Homo sapiens: one gene and its partners. The protein of the gene in region 4 interacts with the protein of the main gene of each other region in a biochemical or structural test. Each region holds a gene or a part of one and is shown on either strand. Other genes may lie near its edges.

The links.
Region 1: the proteins of ERG (region 4) and DKC1 form a complex in vitro, tested with the Homo sapiens proteins (one large-scale study listed by BioGRID).
Region 2: the proteins of ERG (region 4) and EEF1A2 form a complex in vitro, tested with the Homo sapiens proteins (one large-scale study listed by BioGRID).
Region 3: the proteins of ERG (region 4) and TOP1 form a complex in vitro, tested with the Homo sapiens proteins (one large-scale study listed by BioGRID).

Annotation. Positions count from the first base shown.
Region 1 is NC_000023.11:154,772,864-154,775,526, forward strand, and holds part of DKC1 (H/ACA ribonucleoprotein complex subunit DKC1), read left to right. Parts: intron 1-267; coding exon 268-386; intron 387-1,738; coding exon 1,739-1,842; coding exon of another isoform or gene 1,843-1,846; exon of another isoform or gene 1,847-2,331; coding exon 2,332-2,410; intron 2,411-2,663.
Region 2 is NC_000020.11:63,489,084-63,492,583, forward strand, and holds part of EEF1A2 (elongation factor 1-alpha 2), read right to left. Parts: intron 1,653-3,500; coding exon 1,396-1,652; intron 70-1,395; coding exon 1-69. UniProt on the Homo sapiens protein: Translation elongation factor that catalyzes the GTP-dependent binding of aminoacyl-tRNA (aa-tRNA) to the A-site of ribosomes during the elongation phase of protein synthesis.
Region 3 is NC_000020.11:41,035,322-41,038,821, reverse strand, and holds part of TOP1 (DNA topoisomerase 1), read right to left. Parts: intron 1-3,500. UniProt on the Homo sapiens protein: Releases the supercoiling and torsional tension of DNA introduced during the DNA replication and transcription by transiently cleaving and rejoining one strand of the DNA duplex.
Region 4 is NC_000021.9:38,379,536-38,383,477, forward strand, and holds the end of ERG (transcriptional regulator ERG), read right to left. Parts: coding exon 3,868-3,942; 3' UTR 501-3,867; downstream 1-500. UniProt on the Homo sapiens protein: Transcriptional regulator. May participate in transcriptional regulation through the recruitment of SETDB1 histone methyltransferase and subsequent modification of local chromatin structure.

The DNA of each region.
Region 1 (2,663 bases), on a different chromosome or scaffold from region 4:
TCTTGAGCTGCAAGCCTGTTATGTGTATCGTTAGGTGCTTTGGTTAGGTGTTTTTTAACTTCAGAAGTTTAACGTCATTTCAAAGGCCTCCTTCTCATAATGGAGTATTTCCTCCATATGCACATCCTGAGCAAAGGTAACCCCAATTAAAGTAGTAGCTCAGAGTTTTAAAAGTTTTAAAGTGGCATACAACAGTAGAATTGGGGCTCATCAATTATCAATTCTTTCACCCTTCAAATAATTCTTTTCTTTATTCAATGCCTGTAGCTATTGCATTAATGACCACAGCGGTCATCTCTACCTGCGACCATGGTATAGTAGCCAAGATCAAGAGAGTGATCATGGAGAGAGACACTTACCCTCGGAAGTGGGGTTTAGGTCCAAAGGTAAGTGGTACTGGGTTGCGTGCCCTGCCAGGTTCTTTTTTTTTTTTTTTTTTTTTTAAATTTATTTTTTTATTGATAATTCTTGGGTGTTTCTCACAGAGGGGGATTTGGCAGGGTCATGGGACAATAGTGGAGGGAAGGTCAGCAGATAAACAAGTGAACAAAGGTCTCTGGTTTTCCTAGGCAGAGGACCCTGCGGCCTTCCGCAGTGTCTGTGTCCCTGATTACTTGAGATTAGGGAGTGGTGATGACTCTTAAGGAGCATGCTGCCTTCAAGCATCTGTTTAACAAAGCACATCTTGCACCGCCCTTAATCCATTTAACCCTGAGTGGACACAGCACATGTTTCAGAGAGCACAGGGTTGGGGGTAAGGTCACAGATCAACAGGATCCCAAGGCAGAAGAGTTTTTCTTAGTGCAGAACAAAATGAAAAGTCTCCCATGTCTACTTCTCTCCACACAGACACGGCAACCATCCGATTTCTCAATCTTTTCCCCACCTTTCCCGCCTTTCTATTCCACAAAACCGCCATTGCCATCCTGGCCCGTTCTCAATGAGCTGTTGGGCACACCTCCCAGACGGGGTGGCGGCCGGGCAGAGGGGCTCCTCACTTCCCAGTAGGGGCGGCCGGGCAGAGGCGCCCCTCACCTCCCGGACGGGGCGGCTGGCCGGGCGGGGGGGCTGACCCCCCCCCACCTCCCTCCCGGATGGGGCGGCTCCTGCCAGGTTCTTTTGTTTGGCATTGTTGAATACTTGGGCAGCTCTTGGTGTGTTTCACCACCACAGCCTTGTATTGTGCTGGGCTCTGGGTTGTCGATGAGTGGAAACAGGCCCTGTCTTGGGCCTTAGAGATTTCAGTCTAATGAGGGGAAACAGTTGGGCATTACTCACGTAATCACACAGTGGAATGGCGAATTTCATGCACGTTAGTGGCTACCAAGGAGTGCAGAGAGGTGTCTGTCACCTGGAGTGTCCACAGTGGTCAAGGAGTCTGGTCAAGGGATTGTCTGTTAAGCCACACCGGTGTGAAGAGTGGGTTAGGTGTTGGTGAAGTGAAGAGGGGAGGGGAGAGTTCAGGGCATTGGGAGCAAGCAGCATGTGCAAAGGCAAAAAAGTAGAGTGGCTGCGGTGGGGACGTTATGTCTGCAGAGGCTCTCACTAATAAGCTTTGTGATCTTCAACAAGTCCTGTGTGTGTTGGAGTTAGTGGGCAAATTCTGAATGCTCTGGAGAGGAGTTTGAGGCCCTGCTGAGAATACACCAGGGAGGAACCTTGTTCTATTCTTTGTAGTCACCATGCCCGCTTCCAGCATTGACACCATTCTAATGTTGACACCTTGATGTTCCACCAGGCAAGTCAGAAGAAGCTGATGATCAAGCAGGGCCTTCTGGACAAGCATGGGAAGCCCACAGACAGCACACCTGCCACCTGGAAGCAGGAGTATGTTGACTACAGGTGAGGGCAGGATGTTTCAGAGCCGGGGTGGGTAGAGACGGCACACTTGCTGCCTTGATGCAGGAGTATGTCAACAACAGGTGAGGATGGGAAGGTAGAGCCCACTTGCCATCTGGACGCAGGAGTACATGGACAACAGGTGAGGAACAGGTGAGCATGGAGGTTGTAGAGCCCAGGGGAGGGGGAGTCACTTGGTTTGGGGCAAACTTGCTAAATGCAGGACCACAGGAACCAGCTCTTCAGCTCCCGTGAGATTTTGGCTGCCCAGGCCAGTTAGGGGTGTGGGCCTGCACGGCAGACAGTTATCCCTTTCTAGTCTGGCTCGTGGGACTCTAGAGGGAGTCAGTCTGCAACAGTAAGTGGTGAGTTCTTCTGTCCAGCGTCAGTATTTTGATGGTGGCTTTAGACTTGCCAGATAACACTACATAACATCAGTACTGCCCTGGAAAGCCATTCAGTGAATTTGACCTATTGCTACCTCTTTTTCAGTGAGTCTGCCAAAAAAGAGGTGGTTGCTGAAGTGGTAAAAGCCCCGCAGGTAGTTGCCGAAGCAGCAAAAACTGCGAAGGTGAGTGGCATGCTGTCCTCAGTTTGGAATGTGCTTAGGGAGATAATCCTAAGAGGCACTGGCATTCGTCTTACTTTGTGACTGTCCGCAGTCCAGCCATATACGCTAGCATCAGAGGTGCAGCGCATACACAGGTAATGCTGCCTCATACCCTGGGGTGCTTGTTTGGGCTCTGCAGGCTCCTCTGATTTGTATTCTCTGTCCTATCTGCTGGGAGGAGGAATGTGGGCTCAGGAATCAGATGGGCCTCGAC
Region 2 (3,500 bases), on a different chromosome or scaffold from region 4:
GGCTGTGTGGCAGTCGATGACCGGGGAGTAGCCGGCGCTAATCTGCCCCGGGTGGTTCAGGATGATGACCTGCGAGCGGAGCCACAGGCGGCCATCAGGCACATCGGCGGTGGGCACCGGGAGGGCGCCAGAGCGGGGCTGGGAGGCCCAGTCACCGGCGCCCCTGCACGGGCTCCTGGGCCCGGAGTGCTGACTGGAGGGGGCTCAGGCTCTGAGGACCCAGCCCCCAGACCTGAACCTCAACATCCTCATTAAGCAAAAGATAAACAACTGAGATTCATTGTTTCGAAGGGGCAGGGGCAGCACTTACACGGCCAACCCCAGCTGGAACTAAGGCGGGGGGGTGACAAAACTGGACCTCAATTCCTGTGTTTCAGTTGTATCTCAATAAAGCCACTTTTAAAAATCATATGAAGAGGCCAGGCACGGTGGCTCACACCTGTCATCCCAGTACTTTGGGAGGCTGACGCACGTGGATCACTTGAGGTCAGGAGTTCGAGACCGGCCTGGCCAACATGGTGAAACCCCGTATCTACTAATAATACAAAAATTAGCCAGGCGTGGTGGCACATGCCTGTAATCTTACCTACTTGGGAGGCTGAGGCAGGAGAATCACTTGAACCCGGGAGGCGGAGGTTGCAGTGAGCCGAGATCGCACCACTGCACTCCAGCCTGGGCAACAGAGCGAGACTCCGTCTCAAAAAAAAAATAAATAAATCATATGAAGAGGCCAGCAAAGAGGGGCAATGAAGACTGTAGAGAATAAAAGTATGACAGAGATGTCTCAGACAGTAAGTTAACAAAAGCGTTTTTCTAGGACGAATGTAGGACCTCAAAGGCTGGGCATCCCAGCAGTGCAGCGTGGAAGACAGACCCGCGATTGCACACAGGCTGGGAGCCACAGGGCCTGCACCCCTCCCAGAACTGATTGATCCCCTCGTTGAGTGCTCGGTGGCCCCCTCGGTGGTATGCGGGTCCCTTTTCTTTTTTTTTTTTTCTTTTGAGACGAAGTCTCGCTCTGTCACGCAGGCTGGAGTGCAGTGGCGCAATCTCGGCTCACTGCAACCTCCGCCTCCCAGGTTCAAGCGATTCTCCTGCCTCAGCTTCCTGATAGCTGGGACTACAGGCACGTGCCACCACGCCTGGCTAATTTTTGTATTTTTAGTAGAGACGGGGTTTCACCATGTTGACCAGGATGGACTTGATCTCTTGACCTCGTGATCTGCCCGCCTCGGCCTCTCAAAGTGCTGGGATTACAGGCGTGAACCACTGCGCCCAGCCTGAGGGTCTGGTTTTCTCCCCACGCCAGGCCACCTGCCGACAGCAGCCTCACCCAGGACAGTCCTGCTGCTGTCCAGCAGGCGCCAGCCCCCTGGACCCAGCGCAGCCCCCCACCTGGGAGGTGAACTGAGCAGCCTCCTGCGGCGGGTCAGACTTGCTGTCCCCACACACGTTGCCCCGCCGGATGTCCTTCACCGACACGTTCTTCACATTGAAGCCGACGTTGTCGCCGGGCAGAGCTTCGCTCAGAGCCTCGTGGTGCATCTCCACTGACTTCACCTCAGTGGTGATGTTCACTGGCGCAAAGGTCACCACCATGCCCGGCCGCAGGATGCCGGTCTCCACCCGGCCCACGGGCACCGTGCCAATGCCTGCAGAGGGGAGGGGGTGTGAGGGGAAGGTGGGGCCCGAGGGGATGCTGGGGCAGGATATTCGGGGACAGAGCCTGGAAACCAACAAAGCCTGGGACTGGATCCCCCCGACAGGCCTGGGGGTTGGGGCCACATGGGCGGAGTGCAGGGGAAGGGAGGCCAGGGACAAGGGCAGACACAGAGATTCCAAGGGAAGTGGGGGCTCTCCCACCCAGCTGGGGAAATAAGAGGCTGAGCAGCAGAGCTCCCAGGAACCCACGGAAAAGCCACAGGGACAGAGAAGCGGGAGGATGGGCAGAGAGGGGCTGTCTGAACCTGGGGTCCCATCCTTGCCCCCGGAGAGCACTTTCCCTCAAAGGAGGCACTATGGGACCCCTCCTTTGTCTGAGGACTCCTCCCTGTGAGTGTGGGCGGGGCGACTGACTGCTTCTGCCTGGGGCCTGGTGGCCCTGCTCCCTGCTCCCTGCAGGCCCTGCTCCCTGCTCCCTGCAGGCTCTCTGGGCCCCACTTGGATGCTGCAGGTCTCTATCACTAAAGGGGCCTCTCAGCCAGATGCAGCACAGGCACAGCGGCACATGAGCGTCCCTGGCATTTCTCATGGATCTACTTAAACCAATTGTGCAGCTGCCACATGGGGGTCTTGTCCCCCCCCAGGCTACTGGGTCTCCACCCTCACCTCCCAGGGCTGTGAGGGAGGCCTGTTGTAGCCTCCAGCCAACTTCACTGAGGCCAGTGGCTGTGCTCTGTGCTGGGGTGAGCATGATGCCCCCACAGTGCACACAGAGATGCCTGCAACATCTTTGGCTGCAGCCCACTGGCTGGGGGTCTCCTATCAGTGCCCTTCTCTAGGGTCTCAGATTTGTTTATGGTTTCTCTTCTTGGTGGGATGGATGGATGGATGGACGGATGGATGGGGAGGTGGGTGGATGGATGGATGGATGTATGAATGGGGTGGTAGATGGATGGGGAGGTGGATGGACAGAAGGATGGGTGGGGAGATGGATGAGTAGGGAGATGGATGGATGGATTGGTGGATGGATGGATGGATGGATGGATGAGGAGGTAGATGAGTGGATGGACAGAAGGATGGATGGGTAGGAAGGTGGGTGGATGAATGGATGGATGGGGAGGTGGATGGATAGATGGATGGATGGATGGATGGATGGATGGATGGATGGGGGGATAGATGGATGGATGGATGGATGGACGGACGGATGGGGAGGTGGATGGATGGATGGATGGATGGATGGATGGATGGATGGATGGATGAGGAGATGAACGGATGGATGAGATGGATGGATGGATGATGGAGGGAAGGATGGCTGGGTGGGGAGATGGATGGATAGAGAGGTGGATGGGTGGATGGGGAGATGGATGGATGGATGGATGGATGGGGAAGTGGATGGATGGGGAGGTGGATGGATGGATGTATGGGTGGGTAGGTGGGTGGATAGATGGATGGATGGATGGATGGATAAATGGATGGATGGAAGGATGGATGGATAGGTAGGTGGGTGGATGGATGGATGGATGGATGTACAGAAGGATGGATGGGTGGGTAGGTGGGTGAGTGGATGAATGGATGGATGGATAGATAGAAGGATGGATGGGTGGGTCAATAGATGGATGGATAGAGAGAAGGATGGATGGGTGGGTAGATGGATGGATGGATGGATGGATGGATAGAGAGAAGGATGGATGGTTGAGACAATGGATGGATGGATGGATGGATGGAGAGATGGATGGATGGATGGATGGACAGAAGGATGGATGGGTGGGGAGGTGGATGGATGGATGGAAGGATGGATGGATGGATAGAGAGAAGGATGGATGGGTGGGACAATGGAT
Region 3 (3,500 bases), on a different chromosome or scaffold from region 4:
TTGAGACAGGTTTTTCCCATGTTGCCCAGGCTGATCTTGAACTCCTGGGCTCAAGTGATCTGCCCATCTCGGCCTCCCAAAGTGCTGGGATTATAGGCATGAGCCTCCAGGCCTGCCCCAAAGATTTTTAATCCACAATTTAAGGTATGAGAAACAAACAAAGTGGTGTGTATGCAGCAAGCCTTGTCACTGGACAACTGAAGTTGCCGCAAAGTCAAAGCAAGTCAGTACCCTCCTGAGCCAGCCTTTCTATGATTTACAGCAATAGTATCATACTCAATGCTCCCTAGTGACCCCTCCAGCTTGGTTAAAATTTCACAATAGATATATGTGCAAATTTAAAGAAAGTAAAGATGTTCCCTTTGTACAAAAGCCTAATAAAGCAATTTCTGAAAAAGGTGTTGTTGTTGTTGTTTTTTAGCATTGGCAAGGAACTAAAAATTCTGTTCTAAGCTTCACCTTTCATAAAGTAATCCTCTCATGCTCTTTAATCCTCAATGTTGTAAGGTAAGTATTAAACCTACTTTATAGGTGAAGAACTAAGGCTCTGATATTAACTTGTTCAAAGACCTAGCCATTGAGCAGAAGCTCAAGAACTCGAATTTAAATTCCCTTTAAGTCTCTATTATGGGGTGGTGGGGATGTAGAGGGGGTTGGAGGCCGGGAGACTATTCGCATTCTGTATCAGAGGAAAACGAAAGAAAAAGAGACCAAAGCTTTGAAGACTTTTAAATCCAACCCTATTGTGGGCACATTCCTTGTATACTGAGGGCAATGGAGCTACAGAGCATTAACAAATACTCATCTTCCCAGATTTTTTTCCCCATATTTTATGAGCTATATTTTTCCTGATATGTTTATCTTTGAAGACTCTTTAAAATTAGGCCCTATTCCATAATTTCTATACAACAAAATTATGTCCTCCTGCCTACTTTTAATTGAATTTAAGTCTGCGCCTGTTGTGATGCTTCTGTGATAATCCTTTTGCTGAATGGCGTAAGATCTCTACTAAGATCCATTTGGCTTAAACCTAATGAACACTAGTGAACACATCCTTAAATGACTTTTGTTTATTTCCTTTAAGTAACACTTCCAAAAAAACAAATTCAAGGCAATTCAATATTCAGCATTAGCTAGACTTATGAGCCATTACTGAAATTTCTACTGACTTTATCAAATTTTTTCATGGAATCTCCCAAATGCCTATACTCACGCATAACTGTTAACACGGCATTTGGTACTAAATTCTCACACATAAGCTTTATTATATTATTTAAGGTATTCTTATTCCCAAGAATTACTATTTCAAAGAAAACCAAGTTGGTCACTTTAAGCAACTATTTGAATAAATGAAAAACTGAAGTAATTCTCAGGTGCTTTGAGAGTTCTCTGTTTAATTTAAAAACGTTTTGGGGGAGAAGTAAAATAGTGGCCTTTGAAAAAATATGCTGACACAAGACATATTGAATTTTGTGGTTTTAAAAAATTAACAAATAATGAACTTGGCATTTTATTAAATGCATCGAAAAGGGTCAAGTTATTTTTAATAGAAAATCCATAATTCTATTAAATGGTTGAGAAATTAGTCACATCAATAGACTTCTTTCATTTCTGAGCCCATCTTCTGTACTGCTACAAGTTCCTTTGGCAATGACCACTTTGCTGTAAACATTCTTAGAAAAGTAGGAATTAGGCTTGGCGCGGTGGCTCATGCATGTAATCCCAGCACTTTGGGAGGCCGAGGCTGGTGGATCACGAGGTCAGGAGATCGAGACCATCCTGGCTAACACGGTGAAACCCTGTATCTACTAAAAATACAAAAAATTAGCCAGGCGTGGTGGCGGGCGCCTGTAGTCCCAGCAACTTAGGAGGCTAAGGCAGGAGAATGGCGTGAACCTGGGAGGCGGAGCTTGCAGTGAGCCGAGATTGCGCCACTGCACTCCAGCCTGGGTAACAGAGTGAGACTCCATCTCAAAAAAAAAAAAAAAAGAAAAGTAGGAACTAGATATACAATTGGATCCTTCTCAGCCCAAACCTAGATATGAAGACACCTTTTACTTTACAGTGACCGCTTTGTAACTGGAAGACATCAGTGTAGGCTCTGCTGATTCAATTAGGTAAAGACTCAACAACACTAGTTACATGTTACAATTCACTGTGTAAATGTCAAGAAGATTTAAAACTTTAACAGGGAATACCAATGAAAGACAGACTCCCCAACATCAATCACTATTTCAAACCTAACATTCAAAATAAAGATCCAGTTGAGAATAGAGGCTGTCTCATCAAAGTTTACATTTTACAATGAGGACAGAGAGGCACCTTCATATACTTATCTAATTCTCAACAGTTTGTGAAACATAAATATTATCCTTGCTTATGGATAAGAAAACAAGGTTCAGTGGTCAGATCATGTTTCATAGGAAGAACAGGGACTTATCTCGATTTTTCGGAATCCTACACCAATTTTCTATTTTACCACAGCTGTCTCCTCACACCCCCACTCTTCCCCTAGACCTAACATTCCACATACAAAGGGTCCAAGCTATCTCTAACAGCAGATAATCAAGGGCAGGTTCTGACATCTGTACTAGAAGCTTACCAATTACAGCCTGAGTGGGGTTTCCAGAATCTGGACCAAGGCAGCATGTTATCAAAAAGGGGACATGAAAAGGCATAAAGGGTAAAAAGAAAAAAACGTTTCCTTTCCTGGTCTCTGGTTCTCCCCATAAGCCTATGCAATCTATATTATCTTTATTCAATTCAGATTTAATGCACATAAAAATGTGGTGCCTAATAAGTTTTCAAAATTAGTTCCCTTCATCCCACTTCTGCTGCTTGGCAAGAGCTCACATAGTCAACTACAAGGAAACAAAGGGGCTACCTTACTGGAGTCAGGTTAAGTAAAAGGTCTTAGCCAATGAGATCCACAAATGACAATGATCCTGAAGCCTCCTAGATTAGTCTCCTGCACAATCAGTAATATACCTACAAAGCTTTATAAATCTGGGCATTCATACATATATGATAGCAAGATTAACATTTGGACTTCTACTAAGGGGAAAAAGGGTGTATTATTCTGGTGGAGGACTAACCTTCAACAAAGAACTTTTTTTCTATAAACTCCAATAGCCAAGAAAAGTCCTAGGCATCTATCTTTGCTAGCGTGTGCTAAGAAAAACAATATAAAGAATAATGGGACCACAAGCTGGCTGGGTCGGTTTCGTTCTTAAAATATAGGAAAACGTCAGAATACCCAGGGATCTGTTAAATTCTTTTCCCAACATCATCATTTACAACAACAAATACAGGAGATCTGAAGTCCCTAAAAATACTGATTGCTTTAACATCTTTTGTTGGAGCTTACCTAGGTGTTTCTTAGGAATGCTAATGAACTGTGTTCTTTAGGCTCCTTGAATCCACAGAAACAAAAATGTTAATTTCAAAGGCTCAGAGGGGAATTAATTGCCTGGTAGAGATGCCTCCCCACCCCAAATCTG
Region 4 (3,942 bases):
TGCTTCCTGCAGAAGTTTGTAATTCACATATTCTAGCACTAATTATAATCAGGTAATATTATGACTTTCTCCAACAGAATAATAGTTTAACATTTTTTTGTGAGAAGATAATGATGTTTTACTCAGTAAAATGAGTTTAAAATTACAAGTTAGAAAAGTTTATCTAGTTGTTTCTATATAGCATTAATCTGGGCTGCTTTGTCAAAAATTTATTTTATTTTTGAATCAGGGTGTCACTCTGTCACCCAGGCTAGTGGCGTGATCACAGCTCACTGCAGCCTTGAACTCCTGGGACTGCAGTTGTGCACCACCATGCCCGGCTTTTTGTATTTATTTATTTTTTTGTAGAGACTGGGTACTCTCATGTTGCCCAGGCTGGTCCCGGGCTCAAGCGATCCACCCGCCTCTGTCCTTCAAAGTGTTGGGATTACAGGTGTGAGTCAACAAGATTTCTTTAAACCAAGGTTAAAAGATAAAAAGAAGGCACAGAATTTGGTGTATTTTTGAGTAGTCCAAAGTAATTTTTATTCTCTAATTAGTCACCTCACGACTTTATTTGAATGAATTAATGAGAAGCTAAATAAACTAGCTTTTTAAAAAATATTTTCTTCTCTTTCTCCAGGCAATGGGTCACTTTGGGGCGCTGCAGAACATCTGTGCTTTCCCTGTGCCCCATCACCTTCCCAGCTCCTGAGCTGTAGCCATCTCTGCTGCACCTGCTGTCAGAGGGCAGCTCCTCCGGCTCCTGCTCCTGGGTTGCAGGTGCCACATCTGTGCAGAAGGCTTAGGAGAAGCAGTGAGCCTTCTAACTGCAGCAGTCCTGACAAAGCACTTTGTGAACCCCTCCGGGACATAAGGGCATCAAACTAGGAACAAAAACACAGTCTTGACTGTGATTTGGTGATTTTACCACATACAAGGCCCGAAAGCCAATTGAAGACAAGAAAAGAAGACAAATCTCTTGCCAGCAGGAGTAAGATTGTACAGGAGTCTGAGTATACATCAGGGCAAGCCAAGAGACAGGGACAAACAGAGAGAAAAGGTTCATGCAATTATGAATATGACCTGGAGGGGGCTTTGGAATTAGATTACAACAGTAACAGAGAGTTAATGCCATTTTGAAACAATTTAAGAATTATGTATTTGAAGGAACTCAGTATTATCATGTTATCCAAAATTATCCCAGTTGCTCATAAGACTTGCTAATAACCTGGACTGGGGGTGGAGGGTTGAGGGATCTAATGGAAAACATCTGTTAAAATTGAATATGATAATCATGTCTTGTTTTTATGATCTTGCTCATGAGACAGTCTTGAAGAGAGAACTGAGTGATTATCCAAGTAAATGTGTATTTCTATGAAGAATGTAGGTGTGTCTTGACTTTGCATTCCAAAATAAAAATGACTGATCTTTTCCATTAGCACAGTTTGGGTCAGCCTAACTGCCAGCTTTCATGATTGTATTTATTTATTTTCCCTAAGGAGATACGGGCACTTTGTGGGCCTTCCCAGGCTGCTGCAAAATGATGGATGGTTGGGCTCCGTCTAATCCAAATGACACGGGGTGTCAGGAGCATTGGTAATCGTGTCCTGCCGACTTCAAAGCCCACTGCCAAAACATCCACAGCACAGAGGTTTGGCAACTTCACATAATCATAGCAAAAGGACTGCAACGTGAAAAAAACAGGCCCTGAAACAGCTATGAAAAGGGCCAGTTCAGAAACCTATTCAGCTAAGATGTTTCGGCTAGCGCCTTCGCACGGTCACCTTGTATTTTCACCTTTTGAGTTGCCTTCACCTGGACCAAGGTTGGCAGCATTTGTGATTCAAAGAAAAGATGCCCAGGGAAACTGACTCTAGATTATGGAAATAAACATTGTCTTCAAGGGATAGCCAGCAACATCAGGCTCAGGGCTAGTGAATCCCAAGCCACAGTGCCCAGGTAACTCTGATGTAGCAGGACTAAAGCTGTCTACCTAGTGAGAGCTCCTGAAAGAGAAACCCCGCAGCAAATCTAGACGTTATCCCTTGTTTCTGTAAAGTGAGAAATTGCAGCTATCCATGACGCTTTATTTGCCAGTAATAATACAGTTTGCCTTACGAGTGGTAGCTTGTTCACTGTTCAACAAATGTATTTTAATCATAGCAGGAATTAAGGGTGATTTGTGACCAGGTGCTGAACTAGAATTTCTCAATGACAACCCCAGCTTCATAGGCCTCTTTCCATTCCAGGCATAAATATGGAGGCTCCAATGTGAAACCCGGGGTCCTTCTGTTCCAAAAGGGGCTAGAAATAAAAGACAGGAGGGGAGGCAAGAAGGACCTGGAGAGGCTGACGCCATTTGGGTGCCAAACATCCTATTTCCTTGGCTCTCCCTTGCACAAGTTCCTGGACAAAGTAAATTATAACACAAAATCCACAACATTCAGCACATGTTTTCATTAAGCAACTTTAGTCACTAAAAAAAGTGCAAATGCAGACTCCTGTATAAATCTGATTTGCCATGCTAGGCCAAGCTTATTTTATTACATACATTCTGCATTCTAAGAACTAATAACTTCATATTGTAAACATTAAGCATACAGAGTTAAAATTCAAGGCCACATTATATCGATTGTCTCTTTTGTCGTGTGTCTTTGGCTGGCCGAGATCAACTCGTAGTGTATAAATGCATAAGTTATATAATTATTATATAAAAAGGGGGAAAAACATTGACTTGTATACTTCATTCTGACAAACGCACAGCGTTCGCGACTCAAAGGAAAACTGGAGGCCGCCTACCCAAAATGCCTGCGTGATTTCTGATTGTGGCAGCCAAGAAGGCCATCTCTTACCTGACCCTGTGGAGAACAAAGCCCCCACATAATGATGAGGTCCTGAATGTTTCTCTTAAATATCAGACAATTCCAGTTAAAATTTTCATTTGACAAACAAAGAAAGAGATGCGCATTTTTGTTTCTGAATTCTACTACTTCCCCTTTCTCCATTACGCTGTGTCCTTTCTCCTAACACTGGGTTTGGTATAACACTGACTGCATGAACCCTCGAGTCTCCATAACTCATTGTACACAGTCCCCAAATGTCCTGAGTCCAGTCTTCATTGCTTGAGAAGTTTCTTTCCCAGCCCTGGTCTCCTCCTTCTCTGCCTCTTCCTCCTCCTTCTTCACCCCTCTGTCTACAATCACACGCTCACTCTATACACATCCTCAGTCCCACCTTTTAGTTCATAGTCCCGGTAATACTGTAAAGGAGTTGGAAACTTTGGGTCATCTTCACAGTTTGAGAAAGCTGACAGCTGTCCATCAAACGGAATGTATTTGATTTCAACCAAAACAGCACATGCCATGCAGTTGCATATCAACGTCTGTTGATGGGCCACAGTCTCTCTCGTGTCTTTTCTCTTGTTTTTGATATGTTTCTATTTTTAAATACAGGTAGTTTTCCTTAAAATGGCATTATAAACGGTATGTTAGGTCAAAACTGTGTTGTTTCTATTGCTTTAGTTTCATCCCAGTTTGCATTAGTGGGATTCCAAACTCTACTCTAAAGTTTATACATTTCTTAAGACCACTTTCTTTGGCACTTTGTCCTTAAGACTTCATGCTTCTACATACACTGTCTTTTACAAGGTCAGTCCACAGATGATATGTCCATATTCGTGACATTTTTAGCATCCTCCTCATTTCTGTAGTAAGACTTCAGTAACTCCCTCCCAAGAGTCTTTGGATCTCTTCCCCGGCTTCCTTCCCCAGCCCCAGTAAAGCTTTTTTCATTCCTCTTGAGGCACTTTTGATTCATGTTCTCCGATAGAGTTTGTGGCGATGGGCTGGTGAATGCACGCTGATGGGAAAAGCCTCCGCCAGGTCTTTAGTAGTAAGTGCCCAGATGAGAAGGCATATGGCTGGTGGGGAGCCTAGTGTTGGGGTATATACCCCCAGTTGG